Regions from separate parts of the Homo sapiens genome. Here region 1 is linked to region 2. The links come from fine-mapping of genetic effects on gene expression. A gene starts in region 2. The other region holds a variant in brackets. All regions are shown on one strand. Distances are from middle to middle.

The links. PIP is the estimated chance that this variant, and not a neighbour inherited with it, causes the effect. A credible set is the group of variants that fine-mapping cannot tell apart.
Region 1: its variant is the best candidate, but not a certain one, in a credible set for the expression of NAV1 in nasal epithelium (TOPMed, PIP 0.63).

Annotation. Positions count from the first base shown.
Region 1 is chr1:201,745,375-201,750,746 of GRCh38, forward strand. The region is part of intron 7 of NAV1 (neuron navigator 1); the gene reads left to right. All of the region lies in intron 2 of IPO9-AS1 (IPO9 antisense RNA 1), which reads right to left. LOC124904483 (a long non-coding RNA gene) reads right to left here. Exons shown (of 2, transcript XR_007066790.1): 1 at 4,402-5,372. Among named protein-coding and RNA genes, the nearest start is that of MIR5191, 29 kb to the left of the region's middle. The variant C/T (reference allele first, on the strand shown) is at 2,149.
Region 2 is chr1:201,536,669-201,542,040 of GRCh38, forward strand. It overlaps NAV1 (neuron navigator 1), which reads left to right and starts at 2,459. Exons shown (of 34, transcript NM_001389617.1): 1 at 2,459-2,674. LOC124904484 (a long non-coding RNA gene) reads right to left here and starts at 3,477. Exons shown (of 2, transcript XR_007066793.1): 1 at 3,351-3,477.

The sequences.
Region 1 (5,372 bases), 210 kb after region 2:
TTTCCTCACGAACCAGTTTTCCTACTTAGTGTATTGTTGCAGGTGCCATTCGAATAATGGATGAGTTATTCAAAAGAGGGGAGAAGAGGAAAGTTGTGTACCCACCTCTGATTTCCTGGGTACTGAGCTGGGTGCTTTACAGGTGTTTTCTTTGTTATCTTATTTACTCTGCCAGTTAGCCTGAAAGACTGATGGTGACATGACCATTTTTCTGATGTGTGCATATGTTCAGGGAGGGAAAGTGCCTGTCCTAAGTCAGTCAGTAAGTAGTGGAGCAGAAATTCAAACCCAGCTCTGGCTGGCTATACAGCCACTCCTCCCTAGACTAAATGTAAATCTAAAGAGCTGGGTACTTTCTACAAGCTTGAAAATCAAGTTCCCATTTGGAATGGTCATTTCCTATAAAGAAGAGCTGCTAATGAGGTTCCCCAGCCTCCAGGGAAGTTAATTTTATTGTATTTATTTATTTATTTATTTTGAGAGGGTCTGGCTTTGTCACTCATGTTACAGTTCAGTGGCGCCATCTCCGCTCATTGCCACCTCTGCCTCCCAGCCTCAAGCAATCCTCCCACCTCAGCCTCCAAGCAGCTGGGACTGCAGGTGCATGCCACCATGCTCAGCTAATTTTTTTTTTGTAGAGGCCGGGTTTTGCCGTGTTGTCCAGGCTGTTTTCTAACTCCTGGGCTCAAGCAATCCACCCACCTCAGCCTCCCAAACTGCTGGGACTATGGGTGTGAGCCACCATGCCTAGTCTTGCTTTTAGACATATCTATATATATTTTCCCCATATTTACTCATCATATGGTGATAGTTTTGTCCAATTATAAGTTTCTAGGGGCCAGGGGATTTTATCCAAGTGCAGCATATGTGGAACTTAGTAATGATCTTTTGATGATGACAAAAAATAGCTGATAGGATACCACTGTAAGAGCTAATATAGCTGTACAGCTTTGGACATACCATATTTATGCTGTGTCATGTCACACACAGAGCCCTTCAGATTAGGTTAAATCATGTCACCTGAAACATAACAGGTACATAAAATGGAAGCAAATCCACCAGCAAGTATTTATTCATTGCCTACTATGTGCCAAGAAATTCTGTTAATCACTAAAAACATAACAAAAGACAACCTATTCCCATTCCACACTATGATTAACTTGTAATAGAATTGGATATTTAACAGTTATTGGGGAATAACAGTAGCTGGAAATAGGAAGCAAGCAAGTCAGAAATGTAAGGGAAGATTTATGCCCAGGTCAAGGAGCAGCACGTTAGGAGCGCAGTGAGTGTGGGAAACTCATGGAAGTTCAAATGTAGACTGCATCAAAATTTGGAGAGAATGACCAGGTGCAGTGTCTCGTGCCTGTAATCCCAGCACTTTGGGAGGCTGAGGCAGGTGGATCGCTTGAGCCTAGGAGTTTAAGACCAGCCTGGGAAACATGGGGAAACCTCCATCTCTACAAAAAAATACAAAAAATTAGCCGAGCCTGGTGGCACACGCCTGTAGTTCCAGCTACTCGGGAGGCTGAGATGGGAGGGTCGCTTGAGCCCAGGAGGTCGAGGCTGCAGTGAGCTCCAGTCATGCCAATGCACTCCAGCCTGTGTGACCCTGTCTCAAAAAAAAAAAAAAATGAAGAAATTTGGAGACACTATTCAGGTAGAAGGGAGACTTTCAGGTATGAAGGAGGAAGGAGAAGAACCCTGGGCCTGAGATAAATCTTGAAGAGAATTGATGGGGCAGTGGATCAATAGGTAATGTATAAAGAAATCGGAACATATGGCCCATCCCACTCTGTCATCTTCACCGTCCTCCTGGGCCCCCATTCTCGTGGCTGTGCGGGCAGTTGCCCTAGTGCATGCACACACGGTCCTGCCTGTGTGCATGTGTGCATGTGTGAAACTGTTATTTTTCCGGCTTGGAACATTTTCCCATGGATTATTTTAAATAGTTCTATAAGACTATACTAGACTATCAAGTTTTGATTTTGGTGATCTGCCAACTGTACGATTTTAAAAATAGGTTTTTAACAGCTTTAAAACAGAAGTAGTATTTCTGCCAGCGGGTGGAATTGTGGCTCAAAGGCCCTGAAGGAGAACACATACTTGGGATTTATTCCTGGGTGCCATGGGTTTCTGGAATTTTGC[C/T]CCTAGACACAGTGGCGAAGACAGCAGAGGGTGTTCCAGGGTACACATCCTAGACCCTGCTCCTATTTATTCCCTCTGATACGTGGTTGAAAAGCAGTGCTTGAGTGGTTAATCAGATCCCTGGAAATGGATGCCTCACTCTTGTCTGGAAAAAGTTCCCTAATGAAATCTCTTGTTTACATTATGCTACACATTCATGTTCTGGAAGTTTTTGCCACTTCTTCCCATTTCCTATATTATATATGTATTTGGTGCCCATAATTGGTACTGTTTTTCCCCCATTTAAGCTTCTCTCTTCCTAAATTCTAGATAAACATCCTTGTAGTTTCCAGGCCCTGGGTTGCCAACTCAGATTCCCATGCTTGCTGTCACTGAGTGCTTATCTTGGGATCCTTCTTCCAGAACCCAGAGCTCCTTACGTCAACCCCACCGGAATGGGTCCCCAATATATGGGATTCATGCCGAACAACTTTGCAGACACCTTCTAGGCTAGTGTTGAGCTGACCCTGGGGAAGATTGTAGTTGCCTTTCCCTGGAAAGGCGGCTCTCTGAGTGAGAAAACTTCATAAAGACTACTCTTCTCAGTGCTCATAATGTGTTTTGGAATTATTACCTTTGCAGTATATGAGCAGTATGTTAATTTATTAATTTTCCTTGTCCCATTATTAAAAGGGTCCTCCTCTCTCACTCTTATGAATTAAGTGTGAAGGAGGAGGTATATGTAATAACACCAGCTTTTTCACGTGGTTTATAGCAATTGCTTTCATCTTTTATGGGTGCATCTCATGTTTGCCATGATATTTCAAGTTGTTTCTTTTCTGGGGTTCTCATATGGAAATCCCTGGCAAAGCTGTGCTCCTCCAGCATTAGCATGTGTGCAGTGTTTAGAAAGGGAGATGGAATCTGGGCTGCTGCACTGCAGTTACCTCAGCAGGGAACCTACCAGCCTCCACCAAGCTCTACCCCTGGCCTCAGAACCTCAGGGGGCAAAAGTGGCCAGTCACGTCCTCTGTCTGAGAAACTAGCCATGAGTCTCTTGCAGGAGGGAGGAAATCATTGCTTACTCATGCACAACCTGATTTAGGAGCATTCCTGCTATCTGAGAAACTAATTCTGGGAATTTGCACAGAGCTATTCATTGTAAAAGCAGCTTTGATCCCCAGAGAGTCCACAAGACCTTGGAAAAAAATTTACTGTGCCAGGGAGACAGTGGAGCCTATAGGAGCCCCCTAAAGAAGTTGGGACCCTTGGGTTTGGTGTCTGGTTTTGACGTAGTAGTCTGCTCAGGTAAGGCTCTTAGCTACCCCATGTCCCTTTTATAAAGTTGAACTAAGACTCTCTCTGGCCCAGCGTGGTGGTTCACACCTGTAATCCTAGCACTTTGGGAGGCCGAGGCAGGCAGATCACTTGAGGTCAGGAGTTCGAGACCAGCCTGGCCAACATGACGAAACCCAATCTCTACTAAAAATACAAAAATTATCCAGGCATGGTGGCAGGTGACTACAATCCCAGCTACTCGGGAGGCTGAGGCAGGAGAATTGCTTGAAACCGGGAGGCGGAGGTTGCAGTGAGCTGAAATCATGCCACTGCACTCCAGCCTGGGCAACAGAGTGAGACTCCGTTTCAAAAAAAGAAAAAGACTCTCTCTAACTGAGAACAATTCTACCTGCGAAATAATGTCTTAAAGTTAAATAACGCTGGCCATGTGATTTCAGCCCAATGATTCAGCAATAACAATTATTAGCCTCACTTCCTCATCCCCACTTAGCAAAAAAATTCAGAGGTGAAGCAAAGAGAAATATACTGAAAAGCAGCAAAAGTCAGAAGGGGAGCTGTGATGATGTCTTCAGCCTTGTGAATTTCACTTTTGTCTTTCCAAAATGGTTCTGGGCATCAGATAGAGCACAACCCTTGCACCAACTTGCTCACTATTCCCTCTGACTGTGTGCCTTCTGCACACGGAGCACAGGTTGCCAACAGGCTGCTCTCAAATGTGCCTGCATCCTTCTGCTCCACCAATCAAGTTGAATGCTTTCCTAGAATTGCATTTGCTCCCAAACCTGTTTATGCCAGTTGAACTTGGATAATATAATTATTACATAAATTGATGAAATATGAGCATAAAAAGAAAGTTGTTTCCATAAAGACTATATTGGAAGTTTCAAAAGGGAAATTGCTAGCCTGGGCAACATGGCAAGACCCAGTCTCTCCAGAAAAGAAAAAGCAAAATTAGCCAGGCATGGTGACACATACCTGTGGTCCTGGCTACTCAGGAGGCTGAGGTTGGAGGATCACTTGAGCCTAGGACGTCGAGGCTGCTGCATTGAGCCATGTTCACGCCACTGCACTCCAGCTGAGCAACAGAGCAATTCTCTCTCCAAAATGAAAAGAAAAAAGAAAAGAAAGAAAAGGCATGTTGCTGAGTTATATGTAGGACTTGAAAGGTTAGAGGAGATTATAAAACTCTAGAGGATTTTGCTTTCAGATTGCTTTATGTTGTTAAAATTTTGCTCCACCTTAAAGAAACTGACATTAGACTTGATAATGCACTGTAGGTATGGGTGTGAAGACTCAAGTTGGAAAAGCAGAAGTGTATCAGGAAAAATTCTATTGGTCCTAGTACTTTGAATGACACTGAGGTTCACTGGCAACTTTCTGTGTAATTTTTTATAACAAAGACCTACCGCTGCAAGGATTTTACATGTAATGAGTGCCTAAGGAAGGTATGAAAAACCCTTCCCTGGAAGTCTCCCAAAGCAGAAAAACACCCATTTGCGTGGATGACTTGGTGCATCAGTGATAGGGGAGAAATGACTGAGGTAAACTGTTCATGGTATGAGAGTTGACCAAGTCAGGGTGGGGAGGGGAGGAAGAGGGGCAGGTGGACTTGGTGACTCTGCCTCCCTTTCAAACAGAGCAGCCCTGTGTTTACCTGTTTCATACATTGAGGACTTCTGGTTAAAATGTTAGTAAAAACGATTGCTCTTCTTAAAAAAGGGCTTGCAAGCCACCAGATTAGGTCTTTTCCATGTCTTTCTTTCTCCAAATCTATATGAGATCTAAATAAGCTCTCCCCAAGTCAGACAGAGGACATATTTTTAGTGCTCAAGTCATAGCTTGTATTTACTCATTTTCAACTCTTTGGAGTAATAATTGATGAAATTTATATTTACTCACACCTACCACTTGGTTGATGCCCAGAGGGGCTGTCACCTCCCAATCTC
Region 2 (5,372 bases):
TCAGAGCAACTGAGTCATCACTGTGTTCAGACAAAAACTACTCACAAAGTAGGCATTTGGCAGAGGCCACTTCTGGGATGGGCGGGACCCTGTTTCTTACCCAAACAGTGCTCTGTCCAGAGTCTCTTCTGGCTTCTCCTCCCTGCCGCTCTGTCCTATCCACTTTCTCTTTCAGTAGCTTTCATATCCTCTGCCTGTCACCCCAACCAGACTGGCCCCTTTACTCCTTCCTCCCTCAACCTGTCCATATGCTATTATGTTTGCCTACACATACAGGTTCACTGTTGGAAATCTGTGAGTGGGACATTTTTCTGAATTTTTATTTTAGATTCAGGGGGTACATATGCAGGCTTGTTACCTGGGTATATTGTGTGATGCTGAGGCTTGGGGTACAAATGATCCCGTCACCCATATTGATTGGGACATTAGGAGCAGGGTGAGGGAGAACTTGTATGAGCAGCCACTCATAAGTGGGAGAGAAATATTGATCCTGTGTACTGATAGAAGAGATCTAACCCTTACGAAATTATAGCTTTGGCTTTCTTTTCCATTCTGGGTAGCACCCAAGGAATGACATCATCCCAGCATTACCAATGTGGATGGGGGCTATGCATCCAGCCTCACAATGGGTCAAGGAGTCATTTCACCTTCTGATAGTCATTTGCATACCTACTGTGTGGTCCTTGGTCCCTGGGGTCCCACCTTTTGAGCTCTCAAGAAAGGACAGTGCTTCTTCTTAAAGGACTAGGCTCCCCTTTGCAGGACTGGGAAGAGCACAAAAGGATTCTAGCTAGCACATCATTGAATGCCAAACTGGGCGCAGAGTTACATCTCCAAGAGTTAGATCTCCAAGAGTTAGATCTCCAAGAGTTAGTTACTCCAAGATCAAAGTAACAGCTAATGTTCACTGAGCATTTACTATGTGCCAAGCACTATTCTAAGTGTGTCACCTATAGTATCGCATTTAATCCTCCCAACACTCTTAGGAGATAGGAACCATTATTATCCCATTTTACAGATAAAGAAACTGAGGTAGCTAGAGGTTAAAGAGTTCAGTAAGTTCCCATGGCTAAAAAATCATTGATCCAGGATTTGAACTCATGCAGTCTGCCTTAAGAGCCCACACTTCTAGTCTTTATACAGAGGGTAAGGGTGTCACTCTGCAGTCCACCCCCTTATCCCGCGCCAAAAGGCAGTTCACTCCCTTCATGGACAAAAATCATACAACAAATCTTTTTCCCTGATCAGTTGGGAACTTCTTGAATGTCACTGCTTGTCCATTGTCTGGTGTCTCATCTCTCCAAATTCAAAGCCACTGTGGCCTTACTGACTGTGTGGGGCGTTCAGGGAGGACTCAAGGGCTCTCATCCTGACTCTGCTCACACTGATTTTGCTGGCAAAGAGCTGTGAGACCTCCCAGGGAGTAGGCAGTTTTGCTTTCTATCCATCAGTCCTCCAACTTGCAACCCCATGGCCCTGGGAATAGATCAGTCCTCTTATTTGTTGGCAGGAGCAGGGGAATCTGCTGGGTCCTTGGCCACAGCTACTCCCTTTCCAAAGCCTGCTTCAAAGCTCAGGTCATCTGGCTTCCTTCTGCCTTCTTCCTGCAGACCCTGGAAGTCCCCAAGCCAGGAGGCAGGGGGCTTGCACTGCTTCTGCAGTAGGTTCTGGCTGAGGGCCTTCCTCCCATTCACTCTCCTCAGGTCCTGTCATTTCCTCTCTCCTCTTCTTCCCCCTCCTCCCACTCCCAAGTCCCTGGAAGAAGGAGGAGGGGCATCGGCTGTCTGGAAGGTGGGGAGAAGTCACTTATTTTACTGAGCACCTACTATTTGCGGGGCACTTGCGGGGCCTCCCCCTCCTCTAAGACAGCTCAGACAGCATGACAGTTCAGTGGGGTGGAGAAAGAAAGGAGGTGGGTGCCCGGGGTCAGAAGTCGGGTGGAGAGGCTGGCCCATCCATCTGTCCCCTTCTCCTAAAGAACTGCGGCTGAACCAGCGAGCGGTACCCGGACGACATGTGGGGGAGGGAGGAAACCCGGCCTGGAAGTGGCGGTGGCGGGTCCCCGGGCAAAGGAAAGGCTCAATTGTGCAAAGGCTTCCTGCCCTGCCAGCTCGCGGGTCCGCCACCGAGCAGCCGCCTTTCTGCGGCCAGCCTGGGAGGCGGGACGGGAAGGCGAAGGCAGCAAAGGGTTACGGGAATAGCTTTCCAATGACAAAGTCTGGAAGGGACCCATGCCTCCGCCCCTCTGCGGGTTAAACTGGCACAGTGCAGGGGGAGGAAAGCCAGGGCGATCGGACGGATTCTCTCCTCCTGCCCGCCCCCCGGCCGCCAGGCACTCCCCTCCTGGGCCCGCCGTGGAGGCAGCCGGCGTGTGCCTGGGGCAGCGGGTCACGAGGCTCCGCCCCGGCCGCCGTTCCCGAGGGGACGGCACTTTGTTCAGGATGCCGCCTCCCTCCTCATTGTGGGGCCGGGGCCGGCGGCTGCCCTAGTGCGGGGCCCGAGGCTGGAGTGCGCGGCGGACGCCAAGCCTGGTGCGAGGGGCCGAGGCGGCCTGGGGAGCCCCGGGAAACTTTGTGCTCGCGAGAAGCGGACCCCGCACCCGCGCTGCCCTTGGGGATGCGCGACTCTGCGCGGCTGCGGCGCGGACCCGGAGCCCGGGCGGGCAGGCGCTCCGGTGAGTGGCCGGCGCGGGGCGGTCGCGCGGTCGCGGCGCTGAGGGTCTGGCGCTTCCCGTTTTGCGAGGCTTGGCTGGCAGGTCCTGCGAGGCCGAGACCAAGTCTCGGGGTAGGGGAGGTTGGTGCCCGAGGGAGGCTGTGGGCTGGGCTCGGGAGAGGCGCTGGAATAAATAACAACCAAGATGCTCGCGGCTTCCCGGGAAGGTGTGTGCCCTTTCGACCCCTATGGGACTGACTGCGCGTTTGATTCTAGAGTTGACTCTCCGGGGGGGCTGCCTAACTTCAGTCCCTCTGAGCCTCAGTTTCCTTGTTGTGAAATACCCACAATTTAAAGTGCGTTGAGATCTTATCATGAGACACCAGGTGCTGCGTTCTTATACTCGCACCCACACGGCAAGCACACACCCTACCCGCACCTCTGCCTTTCGTTGAAGCAAGAGTTAACTCCTCCCATCCCAGCAGGAGCCAGAGGAACAGCTGGGGCAGGTGACCTCGCGGGCCGTTCCAGAAAACGTTCCCCGCACCCCCGGGATGCGCCGGGAAGCGCCCTCCCGCCAATCTCCCGGAGGCCGTCCTCTCTGGCGCCCGCCCAGTGCGTCTGGGAGCGGAGAAAGTGGTCCCGGAGGAGAGGGGAGAGAGGAGAACGCAGAAATTGGGTGATCACGGGGAGCTCACCTGAGCGCTCCCGAGGCTTGGGCTCTGGTCCCTGCTAATCCCCAGAGCCGATAAAAACTGGTCATAGGATAAAGAAGCAGCTAAGTTTGCAGCGGGCAGAGGGGAGGCAGGAACTGGAGAGGACGCGAGTGGCGGGTGGCGGGGGCGGTGTGTAGGGGTGACGTCCACCCGGCAGAGAGGGTTCCTTGTCCCCTGGAGCCGAACACAGGAAAATCAGCTGGTGAGTCAATGGGACTTTGTTAGGATAGTCACAGGGCGCAGCTGGCGCCGGCTTAAGGGAAGAGCTGGATCCCCCCTTGATAACATGCTGTTTATCTGGCTTCCTGTTTCAATGATTGGGATACCATTGGCTCGTTCAAATTCAATGCTGAGAAGCCTGTGGGCACGTTCGTTCACTGTGCAAAAGCAGAGGGCTTGCCTGGGTTTTCATCTGTGGGCTAGCTCTTGTTCCCCCTACATGAAGTCCCCGGCAACTCACTTGTAATGGGACTGGAGACTTCGCAAAAAGAATGGCCTCCCCAGGAGGAGGATCTGACGATCTGACACTGCAGAGACCTTGGCTTCCTTTAGGCCAGAGATATATATGATTCCAGCTTGCTTATGACATTTTTTTAAATCCTGCTTTGACTTTTTGTTGGTGTGTCTTTGGGATTGACCTAAGAAGGGAGACAGAGGGAACAGCTCTATGGATTTTGTCTTCTAAGATGAGCTTCCTAGTAGTATGTGCTTTCACCATCAGTTTTTAGGGGAAGTTTTCAATCATCAGTTTGTAGTTCTCTATCTGGCTGTGTTGCTAACCACCTGGATGATCAGAGAGCAAATAATTCCTCATGTCTCTGTCCTGGTTTTCACTTCTGTAAAGTGGAGCCAGGAAAAAATCGCTACGGTTGGAAGAATAAAGAAGGTTTTTCAGATTTGGGCTCCAGCCCCTAGGGTCTATTTCCTGAACTTTCCAGGTGAAAGAGAACACCAGGTGAAAGAGAACACCATTTCCGGGTGAAAGAGAACAGCCCCTGATCTGAACTTCTTCAGCAGTTTATCTGATTTCCCTTGGGGCAGGTCTCACATTCTGCTTTGCATTTTTTGTTTTTGTTGATTGTCAGTGTGCCATGCTTTGTATTTTAGATATTTGGGTGTTTGTGCACATGCCTATCTTCCTGTGAGTACCTTCCAGCCAAACACCCTATCTGACCACCCACAACACTCAGCACACAGTAGGCACTTTATAGATGCTTGCCAAACTAATAGAATTGGGGAGAAAAACTAAGTAGCATTCAAAGGCCTCCTATCTCATTTAAGTGCCATTTATTCATTCTTTGGGAGTTAATTTGCTCCCCCAGACCCCCTCTACTTCTTTTTCCCTCAAAAGCAGTTCATAAAAATGTTGATTTGCCCATGGGTAAGTAGGCAAGCTTTGAATATTTGGGCTTTTTCTGGGATCTGGCTTCTTTGATAAACCTTGGCCTGGGGAAACTGAAAACAAGAATGCTGTTTTGGCCAGGTGCGGTGGCTCATGCCCGTAAGAGGGGCGGATCACCTGAGGTCAGGAGTTCGAGACCAGCCTGGACAACGTGGTGAAACCCTGTCTCAACTAGAAATATGAAAATTAGCCGGGTGTGGTGGCAGGTGCCTGTAATCCCAGCTACTCGTGAGGCTGAGACAGGAGAATTGCTTGAACCCGGGAGGCAGAGGTTGCAGTAAGCCGAGATCATGCCATTGCACTCCAGCCTGGGGGCCAAGAGTGAAACTCCATCTTTTTTTTAAAGGAGTGCTGTTTTTCCTTTCTTGCCTAATCTAGCCCCCTCCTGAGTCCCTGTGAACCTCTGGTATCAACTCAGTTTGGGCCCAGTAGAAAGGAGTGGCCTAGAATAGAAAAATCTCCTATCCATCTTTTACAATTTGTCTCTATTTTTGCCTTCCTATTTCCAATCAGTGTCACTTCCCTCTTCTTTTAAAGTTCTTTTGACTTCTTGAAGGGTTTGGCCTTTAAGAAAAACCAGAATGTCAAAGTTAAAAGGATCT